Linked DNA regions of Homo sapiens: region 1 is linked to region 2. Evidence: fine-mapped expression QTL. A gene starts in region 2. The other region holds a variant in brackets. All regions are shown on one strand. Distances are between the middles of the regions. Region 1 has its middle 100 kb from the start of LINC02998. Region 2 holds the start of SNX18 (sorting nexin 18).

Region 1 (8,343 bases), 130 kb after region 2:
TGAGCATTTTAAAATTCCAGTTTTTTTGAAGGTGTATCATGTTTTAAAAAAAAATTTTTCAGAAAAAGCAATGCATTAGAATCCATACATGTATTTGTAGAATGTATGGAGTGGCTATTCTTAATTGTGGCTGATCACAATAGCTGGCATATCATAGGGGATCAGTAAATACATTTCAAATGAACAGATGGACAAATGAACTTGGTAAAGCCAATGTCACTTCCAGTTCTTGCCAAAATAATATTATCTAATATTTATTGATAGCTGATTATATGCCAAGTATAGTCTAAATGTATAAAATGCCCTCACTCATTTAACTCTCAAACAATGCTAGGAGGTAAGGACTATTTTTAATCTTTATTTTTCACGAGAATCTTGAGGACCAGAAATAGTAACTTGCTCAAAGTAAGTTACGCACCCAAAATTCAGACTTGGGTCCTATGGCCTGAGTCTATGCTGGAAGCAAAAGGGACAAGCTTTGTCTTGAAGAAACAAAGCTTATCTAGGCCTGAATAAGCTACGCTCAAGCGTACTCAGAGAAGCGATTTGCAGATTTTCTGAAGGGGCCTCCTGGGGTTAAGTGATTAGGCTGACCAAGGAGGTTATGCAAGGGCATTATGTATCAGCAAAAGCCAGGTGGGCAATGAGTGAAAGTAAGCTGTGGGCCCACGCACTATAAGGAAAGGACTAAAAGAATCATCAGTTCCTGAGGCCAATGGAGATGGCACTCCATTGTAAGGATTCTGTTGGGGATCCAGTTAGAAATATTCTTTGATAAGTGAATGAGACTGAACATACGGGGATTATGGACCTCAATTTTCAACATCTAACTTCAGTGTGGTGTCCAATATCTTATCCCCTGGCAGAATGGGCAAAGGGTCAGAGAAGCCTAACCTCAAATACCTCCTTAAGCTACAAGGACCATGACATGGGGGAATAAAGTTCATCACTGTCTAGAAATAGATTCTTTTTTTTTTTTTCTTTTGTAAGACAAGGTTTCACTCTCATCACCCAGACTGGAGTGCGGTAGCTCTATCTCGGCTCACTGCAACCTCCATCTCCCAGGCTCAAGCGACTTTCCTGCTTTATCCTCCCAAGTAGCTGGGACTACAGGTATGTGCCACCACACCTGGCTAATTTTTGTACTTTCTTTTTTTTAAAAAAAAGATGGGGTTTTGCCATGTTGCCCAGGCTAGCCTTAAACTCCAGACTCAAGCAATCCACCCACCTCTGCCTCCTAAATTGCTGGGATTACAAGGCATCAGCCACTGTGCCCGCCAGAGTAGGGTCTCATCTTACGCTCTGGCCTACAAGACGAAATAGTAATTCCCAGCAAGAGATCATCTGGATAGATTAAAAAGGGATTCATAAAATCGTGCACCCTTTACAACCTCTCTTTGACCATCATAATGAGTAAAAGAGCTTGTGGGGGCAACTCAAAAGAGGGTTCTCCTAGGGCTCTTCAATAGAAGGGGATGGGGTAATCAAGACTTGGGAATCTATCCATATCAGGTTGATAAAAAAAAAATCAGGAGGCTGGGTGTGGTGGCTCACACCTGTAATCCCAGCACTTTGGGAGGCCGAGGTGGGAGAATCACTTGAGATCAGGAGCTCAAGACCGGCCTGGTCAACATGGTTAAACCCCATCTCTACTAAAAATACAAAAATTAGCTGAGTGTGGTGGCACATGCCTGTAGTCCCAGATACTCAGGAAGCTAACATAGGAGAACTGCTTGAATGTGGGAGGTGGAGATTGAAGTGAGCCGAGATTGTGCCACTGTACTCCAGCCTGCACGACAAAGCAAGAATCTGTCTCATAAAAAGAAAAAAAAAATCAGGAAGGAGTATACAGAAGTTCTGAGAGCTTGACATGGTCCCGTAACTCTGTTTCTTTTCTTGAGACTCACCCAGGGGTTCGATACCACCTTGTTCTTCACCAGAGTCAGGCCAGAACAATGCAAGACAATCCTTTCACAGGTGTGACCTGTGCACCACCCACTGCTGCTTCAGTATTGTTGTCATATCCTGATAAATTTTTACATAGATGTTGTATTATTACATATTATATGTGTATGTGTGTGATATTCCCCAAATTCAGTGGATACAAGAGACCAGCAGCTTTCAAAAATGCATTTAAAAGAGGTCTTTTTTTTAAACTGACAGAATTATGTCTGGAATCTCAGCACATAAAATAAACAGGAGCTCTCTGGTTGAAGTTGGCGTGGGATGGGGCTGGAGCCATTCTGCCAGGAGTGGTGGAGGGAAGGCTGGGGATCTTCCTACAAACCTAGCCACCCACAGAGAAGAACACCTTTAGGGCACTGCACTCAGGGTTTTGAGCGTGCACTACAGAGAGTGCACCACAAAGGTTTTCAAAGAGCTTTGAGTATCTACTATTTCTCACAGCACAACAAAAATTTTTATCCCTTGAGAAGAATTATTCTGTAAGTGACAGGGAAACTATAGAGTCACATTGAGGAGGACGCTTTGCTATACCTCATTTTCCTGCAGGCTCCTTAGCCCCTTGTAAAATCATGGGTGCTGAATGTGTGTATGTATGCGTGTGCGGGTGGGAGGTGCAACGCGGCAGCATTGCCTATCACCTCCCACCAAGAGCAGCCATGCCCCAGTTCCTTGCTGAGTCAAAAATATTCTCTTCCATACTTCTTTCAAAACGATTGGTGGCTACTTGCCTTAGATCTACTTAACTAAAGAGCTATTCAAGGACTTCTTGAAAAATCAGACAGTGATTTTATAATAAAAGGCTGACAGTGTCTCTGGGACTGAGAGACGGACCTGAGTACTAAGATTAGAAATGGAGGAGGCTGATGAAGTATATGTATTCGTTGATGCTACAGCAGCAGCACAGCGGATCATTCCCCAACTATCAGGAACCATGAAAGGTCTGAGAGAAGGAGGCTGGGAACTTTTTTGTCCTTGGTCGGGTCACAATGCTCCTGTAAATCTTTAACAAAACATAATTAGTTGTTTATATACTTCCTCTTTAATCCCAGAGTTCGATTTACAAAATATTTGATTGCTGTTTTTGTATATTATCTCAGTGCTCTAAAATTACCCTAGCAAACGTGCAGGAATGGGTGTAGGCCCCTTAAATAAAAATGGAATTAGTTATGTTGGGTTTTTTTTTTTTGCTGTTTCACTGCTACAATTCCCCACTGTCAAAGGCTCATTCCACAATTTTGTGGGATTAGGGACAATGGGATGTCATCTCTCAGCTGGCTACTTCTTGCCAAACAGGGTCAACGTGGGGCAACTGTGGAATGAAACTTTTTGACCTGGCAGTGAGCTGATGTTCAGGCCCTTGTTCCTTCCAGGTCTTTAGGAGGACCTATTTCTTAGTTGAAAAGGATGCAGGTCCATATCCATGGGAAAAATGATTCTGCTGGAAGCAAACTTATAAACAAAAGTTAGTATAATATCTAGCGTCTTAACATATTTGGCAATTGTTAAATCTCTTAGAGCATCGGTTGGTTCTCACACCAGGGCAGAAACCTGGAATGGCCTACCATATCAGCAAGAAAATCAATACATTTGCTCCCTACTGTCAATTGTATCCAGGGCTCCTGTGGGTATATGATAGATCAGCTCAACATACATATTTAATGGGTTACAGAAGTAGCTATAAATATTTATGAAGGTGGTCTTGACACATGTGTACTGAACAAACATGCATGTAACACACGTTTATCTTGGGGTGGAGACTTAACCTTTGCCGGGCATGGCCTTAGGTCCTGTTTATGATTTGGTATCTTATAGCCACAGGCTGTGCTGCCAGTCTCATGATCTCTATTTTAACATTAATGCTGTTGTTGTGTCTAAACTATAAAGGGAGGGGGGATAACAAGGCATTCCCAACCTCGTTTCTCGTGGCTCACTTTCAAGCAGTGGGCAGCTGAATATGGGCTCAGTTACACCAACATGTTCAGGTAGGAGGACTTCTTTTTTTAATACTTGAATTCTACATACTCTCACATAATGGTCATTATATTTTTAGTATCCAGTTATTGCTTTTTGCCATAATGTATTTTCTCAGATAAAAATTTAGTCACATCTTAAAATAAACTTGCATTTTACTAATCAAAACTGCATCTATAGGACTTGAAAAATAGTAATAAATAGATGTGAAA[A/C]ACACATTCAATTTATAGCAATACTTAGCACACAAATAGATTCATGGATTACCCTCCTCCCCCCAAAAATCTGATGGTTGAACCCATCTAAATAAATCATATTACCTTTTTTAAAAAACGACTTTTGGTTAGTTTATATAAATTATTTTCCATGAATGTAGTTCTAGTAATAATGAATGAATGCACTGTTTATTGACTATTTGCAAATTGTTTTTGTTATCTCAGATTGAAATTTTGGAGGTATCAATTCCTTGAGATGGGAGGAGAACGGAAGGAAAACAAACAACTACCTTTTCCTTTCCTGTTGTTGCTGATGTGCACTTTCCCTGTCTTCCACGTCATGACTCAGGAAATGAGGGGGTGCATCTCAGAGGGCACCCTGCCTGTGTTCTCTGTCATTGCCTGTGAGCCACCGACTGATACCATCATTTTAATCACTCAAGAAGCCTTCCTTTCAGGAATGTATATTGCTTCTTGGCCCCTGCCTTCTCCCTGGAAATCCTGGGCAAAGAGCCAGGGAAAAAACGTGAGTGCTCAGGCCGAAATCAGTGGGCTGGAATTGTTTCTTCACTTTGGGTGACTCCACTGTTACTCAAGGAATGAACTGATTGGCACCAAGCAAGAAGAACAGCACATCTCTTTGGACTCATTCCCTTATTTATAAGCCATAACCTTAGGGACAATAAGCTAGAGACCCTGCCAGCATCCTTGAGCCAGGATCTCATCTGTTGTCACAGTAGCCATGTTTCCCTGGCATCCGAGAGCCCAAGGATGCAAATAAGGCCTGGGCCAAACTAAGCTCTGACAATTAATGTTATTCCAAAGAGGCAGCAGCGAGGGTAGGAAGTTCTGGTCCCCTCATCTTACTTCAAGTTTCACAGCCAAGAGTGATGATAGCTTTAGTCAGTAAGTACAGTCAAGGAGCCTATGAGACAGAACTTGTCACAAAGACAGCTGATGTTTCGCATGGACCTTAACAGAGTAACTGGTGTCTCTTCAGGAATGGGGCACAATCCAGAGGTTACTAACCACGGGTGAGTAACAGGTGATCCACAACAATCTCATCTGACTCATAGTAGAGATTGCTGGCATCTACCCAGCATTCATTCCCCCTCTTCCTAAGAGAAACTCAATTCGTTGTAATCAGCAACATATTCCCAACAGGAAAATCACATTTCAAGCCTTCCTTTAGATAGGTGACTACATTTTGGCCAGTGAGATAGGAGTGAAAGTTGTCAGATGGGCTCCTCCTGACAACTCCTTTAGAAGGGGCTGACCCAGCTGTCAGCCATTTGCCCTGGTGTGTCCTCCTCTCTACTGACTACAATATAGGTGTGATGGCTAGAGTAGCAGCTGCTATCTTGGGACAAGGGGAGACCTTGGGGTAAACAGAACCTAGGATAGTAAAGCAGAAAGATAGAAGAGCCTGGGCTGATGATGATGTGGCAGAACTGCCAAACAAGCTCTGGACTGCTAATCTCTGGACTTAACTTTCAGGAAACAAAATTAAACTCTATCTGGCTCAAGCCACTCTTACTTTATGGACCAAGAGCATTGGCAGCACTTGGGAGCTTGTTAGAAAGGCAGCTTCTCAGGCCCCTTCCCAGGCCAAATGAGTGACGATCGGCTTTGTAGCAAGATCCACAGGTGATTTGCATGCACAGTAAAGTTTGGGAAGCACTGCTCCAGATGTAGTTAGTTTCTCTGTTTATGAAATTATTAACTGATATATCCTGGGAAATAATGAATTCTATTTGCCGGTACTAAAACATGGTAAGAATGATATAACCATAGGATAAAACAACTAAAATGCCCTGAGTTATTTGGATACAAAGAAAGAAAGCATTCATGTCAATTAGGTAATTGATGTTCCAGCCACTATACCTGGCACCAGAGAAGTAAAGATATCCCTGCTCTAGACTCCATGGTCTAACAAGGGAGACATATAGATACTGTGTATTGTGTTGCATTGCATTATAAGAACCGTTTGGATGCAATAAGAGCTATGCCCAGGTGTTCCGGGAAAACAGATGAGGGGTCTAAGCCTTCCCTCCTGGGCTAGGGAGTAAGTTAGAGAAAACTTCTTGGAAGAGATGTCACCTGAGTAGTTAAGAATTATCTTGCTTCTTCCCCCAGTTTCAGGGATCAGAGGCCATCCTTTGTGGGCTTAAGTCAGCCTGCTGGCCTCCCCAGCTGCTCCTTAAATTCTAAGAGTTGGCATAAAAGACACAGGTTACAACACGAATGTCTTCATCCTACACGATCTTTACTTTCTCTGTTCACAATGTGGGCTCCTTGGCTCCATTTTACATATACAGGAAATTTGGACACCGAATAGAGAGTGAATTTCAAAGGATTCAGAGAAGGCAAACCCATATGAGTGTTTAGAGTTCATTGATCACTAGTATCTTCTTAATTTTGTGAACACCGGGTTCTGAATTCCTTCATTGACTAGCTATTTCTCTTCATGTCTTCTACAAACATTCTGAAGTTGGAAATCCTTTTTATTGGTGTTTAGAATAAGTCAATGTTTTTCCTCTCTTTATATTTCTACTTGATATTCCTCAGTTTTCTGTATTATTAAAAATGAAATCACATTTTTGGATACTTGTGGTTTGGCCGGCTGGTTGGGAAACTTTTCTGGCATTCATTATTGCTTTTTTCTTTCCATTTAAAGAACATTTACTGGATTTGGTACTTGGCGAAAGAAACTGACAAATTAAGAAATGAGAGAGAGAATAAATGCACTGTGCATGCTGAAACCCCAAGAAGACTTTTTTTCTCCTACTTTTTATGGACCTGAGGTGTTGGAAATGGAAACATTGTTTCAAACAAAATCCAGATTTTTATCTCTCTCCCCAAGAGATATGGCTTTAATCTTTTTTCTTTTCTTCTGCTGCTTTTCTGAAACACTCTGCTAGGGGCTGATTTCCTCTTCTTTGAAACAGACCAAAATATCCCTGTGGGTGAAAAACATGCCGGAAGTGAAACAGAAAGACTCAGCTTGCCCCGTGTTCGTGGTCTGTCAACTTCTCTAGCCAGTGCCTGGATCCACAGCTCACTGCTGCCGGTTGCCCTGCGTTAGCCGCATTGCGGGGGAGACAGGAGAGGCTTGAAGGCTTTTTATATTCTACTCTCTTCTGAAGAATTCACAAGTTAGCAAGCACTCAACCACTACTAACCAGAAGGTATTGCCAACCATAACAAACTACACCCATCAACAAGGCCTCCCTCATATTGCAATCCCAGCAGAAAATGATGCAGGAAAAGCACTCCCCAAATCTTGGTTGCCTGCCACCCAAGTTCTTATGCCAAGATATGTGTTTAGCCAGTTCTAAGATGCTGCCACCTTTTCATGTGTCCAACACTAGGCTTTCTACCATAGTTCCCTCCACCCAGAATGTGTTACTTGGCTCCTACAAATGCAAGAGGAAGTGCCCTTCCCTGAACAGAAATCAAAACACAGGGTGAAACCACGACTTGTTTTCAACAGGCCTCCTGTTGTGAGCCCTCCCAGCTGTGCTGCCTTTCTCCAAGAGAGCTGGGACTGGCGGCTCGAAGCGGTATAAATGGCCTGTGCCTCTTCCTGAGGCTGCCTGTAACAAGTGTCTCAAGAGCAATTCGTCATCGGCTGGAGATTACCAACTTGGCTCACTGAACCAGATCGTGCTTTGTCACATGTGAAATTCTGATGTTCTAATACATGGCTTGTTTGCAAACTACGCCTTAAATAAATATATTCAGGATATTTAACAATATAGTGTTCTGAATTAGACCATCATTTACATCTGTATTTATTCAATAATCATTTACTAAGTGCCAAATACATGCCGAGTACTATGCCGAGTGCAACAGTTAAAACGCAGGAAAAAGATCGTATTGCCCTTACTGGGCTATAAATTCAAATCTCTGTCTCATCTCATCAAGCAATCTTTCCGCCTTGGCCTCCCAAAGTGCTGGAATTATAGGCATGAACCACCACACCTGACCCAGGAGAGTTTTCTTTAACGAGTGATGCTTGATCTCAGTTTTGAAAAGTATAGAGGTGTTCACCTAGAGGAGAGGAAAGAACAGAGCATTCTGGAAAGAGGACTGTGGAGCAAAGGCAAAGAGATATTACATAGCCTGGCATGGTTTGGGAACTATAAGCAGTTGAAGTTGGTAGTGAATGGGGCATGAGAGGAAGGGGAGGTAG
Region 2 (8,343 bases):
TCGAACTCTTGACCTCAAGTGATTCACTCACCTTGGCCTCCCAAAGTGCTGGGAGTGCAGGCTTGAGCCAGGCTTTCTATTAAGCCTAGCTACAAACCTTCTAGTAAATGGCTGTTGCTCTTCATTTTACTTTATTTATAATATATAAAATATATAAAGTATAAAACAATATTACATATACGTGTGTGCATATGTGTGTGTACACACATATACACACGCATGTGTGTGTACACATATATACACGCATATGTATAAAATGTATACCTATATAATTTTTATTTATATATAAATTTATATATAATATATATTTATATATAATATATAAATTTATATATTATATATTTATATATAATATATAAATTTATATATATTATATATTTTTATATAATATATAAATTTATATATAATATATATTTATATATAATATATAAACTTTTATATTATATAAATTTATATAATATATAAATATATAATATATAAATATATATGATATATATAAATTTATATAATATATAAATATATAATATATAAATATATATGATATATATAAATTTATATAATATATAAATATATATGATATATATAAATTTATATAATATATAAATATATATGATATATATAAATTTATATAATATATAAATATATATGATATATATAAATTTATATAATATATAAATATATATGATATATATAAATTTATATAATATATAAATATATATGATATATATAAATTTATATAATATATAAATATATATGATATATATAAATTTATATAATATATAAATATATATGATATATATAAATTTATATAATATATAAATATATATGATATATATAAATTTATATAATATATAAATATATATGATATATATATTTATATAATATATAAATATATATATCATATGTATAAATTTATATATTATATAAATATATATGATATATATAAATTTATATATTATATAGAAATTTTAATATAGTATATATAAATTTTTATATATTATATATAAAATATATATAATATATAATATATAAATAATAAAAAATTGTATATATAAATTTTTATATACATAAAACATATATATGTAGGTGTGAGCCACTGTGCTGGGCCTGGATGCTGTTTAATAATAGTAGTAGTTTTGAGGCGCCAGCAGAGTGCAGACCTGTGACACAGTGAACCGAAGTTCTCAGGACAGCTGAGTAGCTGCTGGGTCATTCCTCAGTCACCTGACCTCAGCAGACGACCCTCTCTGCAGTTGGCTGTCCTGATCTGGGATAGTGGGGATGGCAATATCTGCTCCATGCATGGATGAGTTGGTGTGAAAATACGGCAGGAAATAACACAGGAAAGGTGTAAGTGCATCTAAAATCATATGTACATATTTGTGTAATGCTTGATGCATTACATGAGTGTTTTCAAGTAAAATATAGTGTTAATTTTAATAATGACCCACTCTGTAATAGTGAAATTTCTAACAATCTGAAAATTTGCAGTGGTGTTCTGGGTGGTTGTGTTACCTTTAACGTTGTTGATTTAAAGAGGAGTGTTACTTAGCTGCCTTAGAAACAGTTACAGCTGGGTGGCAGAGGGCACCAGGCAAGCTGACCCAGACACAATAAGAGCTACTGGAGAGAGCTGACTTCATCTAGGGAGGATGTAAGTGGACATTCTTTCATTCATCTAACAAATACTAACTGGTTGCCTAACATGTCTGTTTTGTTCATTGCTATATCCTCAGTGCTCAGAAAACCTCATTGCCCTGAAAAGGTTTATGTTGTAATAGGGGAGGCCGTTAATGTATAGACGTGTTTATCTTAGGTCATAGTTGCTACAAAGAAAAGTGAGACTGTGGGATGGACAGGGGATGGGAGGGAGGGAGGGAGATTATATTAGCATAATTAGTACCAGCTGCCTCAGCAATCTCTGAAATTTCAGTGGCTTAGTCGGACAAAGGATTTTTCTCTCACAAAGTATGATTGGGGTCGGTGACTCAGGGACCCAGGCTCCCTCTGTCTTCCGGTATCTCCAAGGAAGGAGAAGAAAGGAGGGATGGAAAGCCCCATGGTTCTGACCGAATGAAGCGATGATGTGGCATGGTGGATCTCCCGGGGAAGAGGGCTCCAGGGAGAGAGAAAAGCGAAGGCAAAAACTTCAGCAAGAAACGTGCTTGACTTGTCCCAAAAATAGCAAAGCAACCACTGTGGCTTCTTTCAGTGGAAAAGGGGGCTGGAAAGATAGCCAAGGGCCAGGCTATCTAAGGCCTCTCAGGCCAAGGGAGGAAGTAAGAAAATGCAATTGTTTGGGGTCATTTAGTGTCCCCTAAAAACTTTACAGAAGCATATGGGTGGTTATAATGATTGTGTAAACTAAACTGTGAATAATATGCTCCATTTTCTAGAGAAATCTTTACAAAATGTGTTACTGTATCTATTTCCCTGAGTGAACAGTTATAGGTTGTTAATACTGGAGCACAATTTTCTACATATCTAAGACCCTCTAGAGGTAGGGGTTTTCCTGCCACTAGTGGCCATAGGGCCAAACATCATGACAGCCTGTCCTCATCCTTCTGGAAGCCTGATGCGCGGCAAGCACAGAGGCCTCCCACTGGACTCCTACAAAGTAAGCACCTGCAGACGCCCATGCCCCAGTGCTACAAACAACCTTGGACACCCAATAATTCCTCAACCACCATTTCTACAGAGTAGCTCAACCAGTCTGTAAAAAATCATCACCTTAAACTCCTGGAATTTTCACACCTGAAATAAGCCCAAAGTTACTGTACTTAACTCTAATCTAAAAAGTAACTACTAAACGAACAGAAGGGGCGAAACTAAATTTATTTATCTTACATATTCTAGGTTAGCTTTTCAGAAGTAAAATGAGTCATATTCTAGAGGTTTAGTTAATGTGGACTTCATGTTTCTGACCACATGAAATGTTGGCATTGAAATTCAATGATCCCTGTTGCTTACTGTGAGAATAGTCAAAACCCAGAATTTTCAGCTAAAAATGTAATTTAGAATATGCTTACTGAATTGAATTAAGGTTTTGCATTAGGATAAACACTGTGGGAGTGATTCTGGTATAGTGGGTTTGTGTTTTTGTGCAAGATGCTTACAATACCACAGCCCTTAGAATAATTGTACACTCTTCTGGCCCGTTTCCCAGGTTTCCTTGAAAAGGGTCAGAGGACAGGCTGAAATTAATGACACATGAATGCAGAACCTCAATTAGAAGTGTCTTCAAAGGAATAATTAGGCTAGACTTAATAAGAGGGGATTAAGAGAAGAAAAAGCTTTGGGCAAATTATACACTGAAGGAAAGGAAGATAGGAAACAAGGCAACGATAGATTGGAGCTGATTATTTCAGGAAGTGATTTTTGTTCTATTTATCTTAAAAATAATATAAATATAGTGAGACATAGAGACAACAGATGGATGGATGGTCACTGACCTCTTACTAGGAGTGGCAATGTGAACATTGGGACGCTTCCTGGTGCATGTACCCTGCAATTGTTAGTTTAGTACCCCTATTCCCTTTGTGAAAGAGGCCAGGGATTTTGCTTCCCCCAAATAACAGTAACAGCAGCAAAAGCAGCAACAAACCCTTCAAATCTGCTTACCCTGCCAGATATTGTTTCACTTTCCTCATCTGTAAAATAGGGATTACTTTATGATGGAATCCCCACAACAACCCCCGGAGGTAGGTACGATATAAGTGCCTTGTTCCAGGTCATACAGCTAGGTAGTGTCAGAACACAGATTGAAATTCAGAAGCCTGGCTCCGAAGTTTGAGCTCTCATTCACCGCACTACATATATCTATGGGAGGATAGGCGACACATGCATGTAATAAATGTGTGAGCATTTATTGTACTGGAAACTCTCCAGCTCCTCCCTCTCTACATGATCCTTTGCTTCTAATTTTGTCAATCACAGCACCTTCCCTGGCCCTTACTTTGTTCTTGCCAATCTCCTCTCCTTGAGCAGAAGAGGGAAGGGAGCCTGCTCTGTAGGTGAACAGCTCCTCCGCAGAGGCATCCTGTTTTCTTAGTGCAATCACTAATTCGCATTGCAAAATGCTTTATTACATGACTGGGTTGCCATTCTAGGAGCATTCACTGAGCGCTCAGAGTGGGAACGTTTATCAGGCATGCAAATGCTAACTTACTTTCTAGAGAATGTTTAACTTAAAAGCCTAAAGAAATCTCAGATAATTCACTTCGGAGTAGAAACCTCCTTCAGCCGCGCTCACTACGGCGCCCGGCTTCGCGGCACCGGCCACTAGAGGGCAGTGGCCGCCGCAAAGCCGACGCGGGCGGTGGGCTCGGCGGCTCGGCCATCGCTTGCTCTCGCCTGGCAAGGGGCTCTCGGCCGTGGATTAGCGCAGCTGGAGACGTGGGAGGCCGCGGGCCCCGCCCCCGACCGGCGGCGGCTGCGGCGGCCCAGCGCGGCAGTCGGCGCTGCGAAGTGGAGGCGCTGCGAGCGGAGCCGCGCGGAGGGCGCGACCGGCTGGTCCGGGCAGCGTGGGTTTGCCGCCTTCGGGGCTCCAGTCCGCGCGCCAGGGCTCGAGCAGTACCGCGGGCCCCTCAGGTGGGCCTCGGCTCGGGACGCCGGGAGTCGGGACCGCCAGTCGGGGCGCCGGGACCATGGCGCTGCGCGCCCGGGCGCTGTACGACTTCAGGTCGGAGAACCCAGGAGAGATCTCGCTGCGAGAGCACGAGGTGCTGAGCCTGTGCAGCGAGCAGGACATCGAGGGCTGGCTCGAGGGGGTCAACAGCCGCGGCGACCGCGGCCTCTTCCCGGCCTCCTATGTGCAGGTGATCCGCGCCCCCGAGCCTGGCCCGGCGGGAGACGGCGGCCCGGGCGCCCCGGCCCGCTACGCCAATGTGCCCCCCGGGGGCTTCGAGCCCCTGCCTGTCGCGCCCCCCGCCTCCTTCAAGCCGCCGCCTGACGCCTTCCAGGCGCTGCTGCAGCCACAGCAGGCGCCGCCTCCGAGCACCTTCCAGCCGCCCGGCGCGGGCTTCCCGTACGGCGGGGGCGCCCTGCAGCCGTCGCCTCAGCAGCTCTACGGCGGCTACCAGGCCAGCCAAGGCAGCGATGATGACTGGGACGACGAGTGGGACGACAGCTCCACGGTGGCGGACGAGCCGGGCGCTCTGGGCAGCGGAGCATACCCGGACCTCGACGGCTCGTCTTCGGCGGGTGTGGGCGCAGCCGGCCGCTACCGCCTGTCCACGCGCTCCGACCTGTCCCTGGGTTCCCGCGGCGGCTCGGTCCCCCCGCAGCACCACCCGTCGGGGCCCAAGAGCTCGGCCACCGTGAGCCGCAACCTCAATCGCTTCTCCACCTTCGTCAAGTCCGGCGGGGAGGCCTTCGTGCTGGGGGAGGCGTCAGGCTTCGTGAAGGACGGGGACAAGCTGTGCGTGGTGCTGGGGCCCTATGGCCCCGAGTGGCAGGAGAACCCCTACCCGTTCCAGTGCACCATCGACGACCCCACCAAGCAGACCAAGTTCAAGGGCATGAAGAGCTACATCTCCTACAAGCTGGTGCCCACGCACACGCAGGTGCCGGTGCATCGGCGCTACAAGCACTTCGACTGGCTGTACGCGCGCCTGGCGGAGAAGTTCCCGGTCATCTCCGTGCCCCACCTGCCCGAGAAGCAGGCCACCGGCCGCTTCGAGGAGGACTTCATCTCTAAGCGCAGGAAGGGCCTGATCTGGTGGATGAACCACATGGCCAGCCACCCAGTGCTGGCGCAGTGCGACGTCTTCCAGCACTTCCTGACGTGCCCCAGCAGCACCGACGAGAAAGCCTGGAAGCAGGGCAAGAGGAAGGCCGAGAAGGACGAGATGGTGGGCGCCAACTTCTTCCTGACCCTTAGCACGCCCCCCGCCGCTGCCCTTGACCTGCAGGAGGTGGAGAGCAAGATCGACGGCTTCAAGTGCTTCACCAAGAAGATGGACGACAGCGCGCTGCAGCTCAACCACACGGCCAACGAGTTCGCGCGCAAGCAGGTGACCGGCTTCAAAAAGGAGTATCAGAAGGTGGGCCAGTCCTTCCGCGGCCTCAGCCAGGCCTTTGAGCTGGACCAGCAGGCCTTCTCGGTGGGCCTGAACCAGGCTATCGCCTTCACCGGAGATGCCTATGACGCCATTGGCGAGCTCTTCGCGGAGCAGCCCAGGCAGGACCTGGATCCCGTCATGGACCTATTAGCGCTGTATCAGGGGCATCTGGCTAACTTCCCGGACATCATCCACGTTCAGAAAGGTAAAGCCTGGCCCTTAGAGCAGGTGATATGGAGTGTATTGTGCAGGCTGAAAGGGGCGACTTTGACAGCAGTACCACTGTGGGTTTCAGAATCATATTCTACAGGTGAGGAAGCGAGCAGAGACGTGGACGCCTGGGTCTTTTCCCTAGAGTGTAAGTTGGATTGCTCGACAGGCAGCTTCCTCCTCGAGTATCTTGCATTAGGGAATGAGTACTCTTTCTCGAAGGTTCAAAGAGTACCTTTGATGACAGTGCTATCATTTTAGAGTTTGAATAGTTGAGTAATGAGCTGCTCAAATCTGTAATCTTGAGACGAGGGTAGAATTAGAAGGGGACCTAAACCATGTTAGGTATCTGTTTGAACACTGCACTGTCACTTAGTGGTGAGTTTCAAAAAGTGAGGAAATAATGGAGAAGAACGGATGTCTGTAAATAGAAATCTGCTTTCACCCTTCCACACCTCTCAATCTCTGCTTTGGTAGAGGAATTAAGATCAATTCTCTGAGTTTAAGAAATTCCTGCAAAGAATTCTTGCCTGCAACCTTTACGAAGTGAAGTAATTTCAGGAAAAGCGTACTCATTTTGAGTTTGAAATCTATTAATGTACTGAAATTGAGAACGTTGTTTAGGAAAATTGTTTAGGGAAACTACATAGAATGAATATAATCTGAGTATTGGATCTGAGAGCAGCGTTGCTGGTATCCCAGTGAGTTAGCTGTCCAACTATCAGAGTTCATGAGTTATTAATAGTTGTTAGTGTCTCTGACCTTTGCTAAAGCACCAGAATTTGCAAATTAAAAAAATATATAGCAGTAGTGCTTGTCTTAACATTTCTTACTAATGTGCATTCTCATATAATGCCTTGATTGAGAGAATGGGGAGGTGTGGGAGTTAGGGAGGCAGTCTTGCCTGTGAAAGTCCAGTGTAGGGGCGGCTGGGCAGGGAAACCTACTCCTGAGCAGGGAAACCTACTGTCCCTGTTTCCTCAGCGGGTCTGGCCTTTACTGGTGAAGTGCTCACTGCCTTTCTGGTGGGCCAGTCCGTTTATGAGCAACCCTGATCTCTGGCATGTCTTTTCTTGTATTGAACTGAAGTTTGCCTCCCTTGATTGTCTTTCTGTTCCCTGGGACCGCCTTCAGACATTTGGAGACAGCAGTCTCGCTTCCTTCCTCTCTGCTTCTCTCCTTCCCCTTCCAAATGCGTGACTGGTCTTCTGACTCCTATGGGGGAAGGGGCTTGCTGGGAGAATGATCAAACGTTTTCAGTCTTGTTGCTGCCGCTGAAAGGGAGTACCCTGGACATCAGTACTAATTTTAGTAGACAGTAGTAACTTTCTTGGCAATTTGCGATTTGTAAATGCAGTCTAATATTGAATTCGTTTTTTGTGCAATCATATTGCTGTTGGCCTGTATTAAACCTGTATTTACATTACCTATGCCTTTTTTTAAAACATAAATTGTTATGAATCTTTGACTTTTTTGACTGGTGTTGGTGGAACTGCCTTTGTGAGCCTTTAATGGAGGGATTTAGCATTTAAATTCCATTGTGTTACATCATTCTGGACCTATGCTGGCTGCCCTTTTACACATTTCTGTGAGTTTGTGCAAATTACTGGTGAACAGTTGAAAGGATGGAACCAAGTACAGACACTTGGACATGTGTGCTGGGCCGCTGGTGTCTGTCTACTTTAGGTTGGCATCAGTTCATTCACTGTCAATCACACCATGCACTCAGGCTTTGTCAAATGGCCTGCTTTTGAAATTATATATTAGAAAAGGTATGGTGTGTGTTCTAATATCTATTTTGAGTTTACAGCAATGGTCTACTTAGTCTATTAAACCATCTGGTTATGGCCAGGGTCACGCCTGTAATCCCAGCATTTTGGGAGGTCGAGGCAGGAGGATTGCCTTAAGGCCAGGAGTTCGAGACCAGCCTGGGCAACATAGGGAGACTCCCTTGTCTACAAAAAATAAAGAAGTTAGCGTGGCATGGTGGCTCATACCTATAGTCCTAGCTACTAGGGAGGCTGAGGCTGGAGGATTGCTTGAGGCTAGGAGTTAATTTGAGGTTGCAGTG

The links. PIP is the estimated chance that this variant, and not a neighbour inherited with it, causes the effect.
Region 1: its variant is fine-mapped to the expression of SNX18 in whole blood (INTERVAL, PIP above 0.99).

Annotation. Positions count from the first base shown.
Region 1 is chr5:54,639,244-54,647,586 of GRCh38, forward strand. It overlaps a transcript of SNX18 not described here. Among named protein-coding and RNA genes, the nearest start is that of LINC02998, 100 kb to the right of the region's middle. RefSeq lists an enhancer at 269-843. The variant A/C (reference allele first, on the strand shown) is at 4,149.
Region 2 is chr5:54,513,307-54,521,649 of GRCh38, forward strand. It overlaps SNX18 (sorting nexin 18), which reads left to right and starts at 4,453. Exons shown (of 2, transcript NM_001102575.2): 1 at 4,453-6,267. The coding sequence starts at 4,647. RefSeq lists silencers at 4,207-4,448, 4,329-4,888 and an enhancer at 5,361-6,305.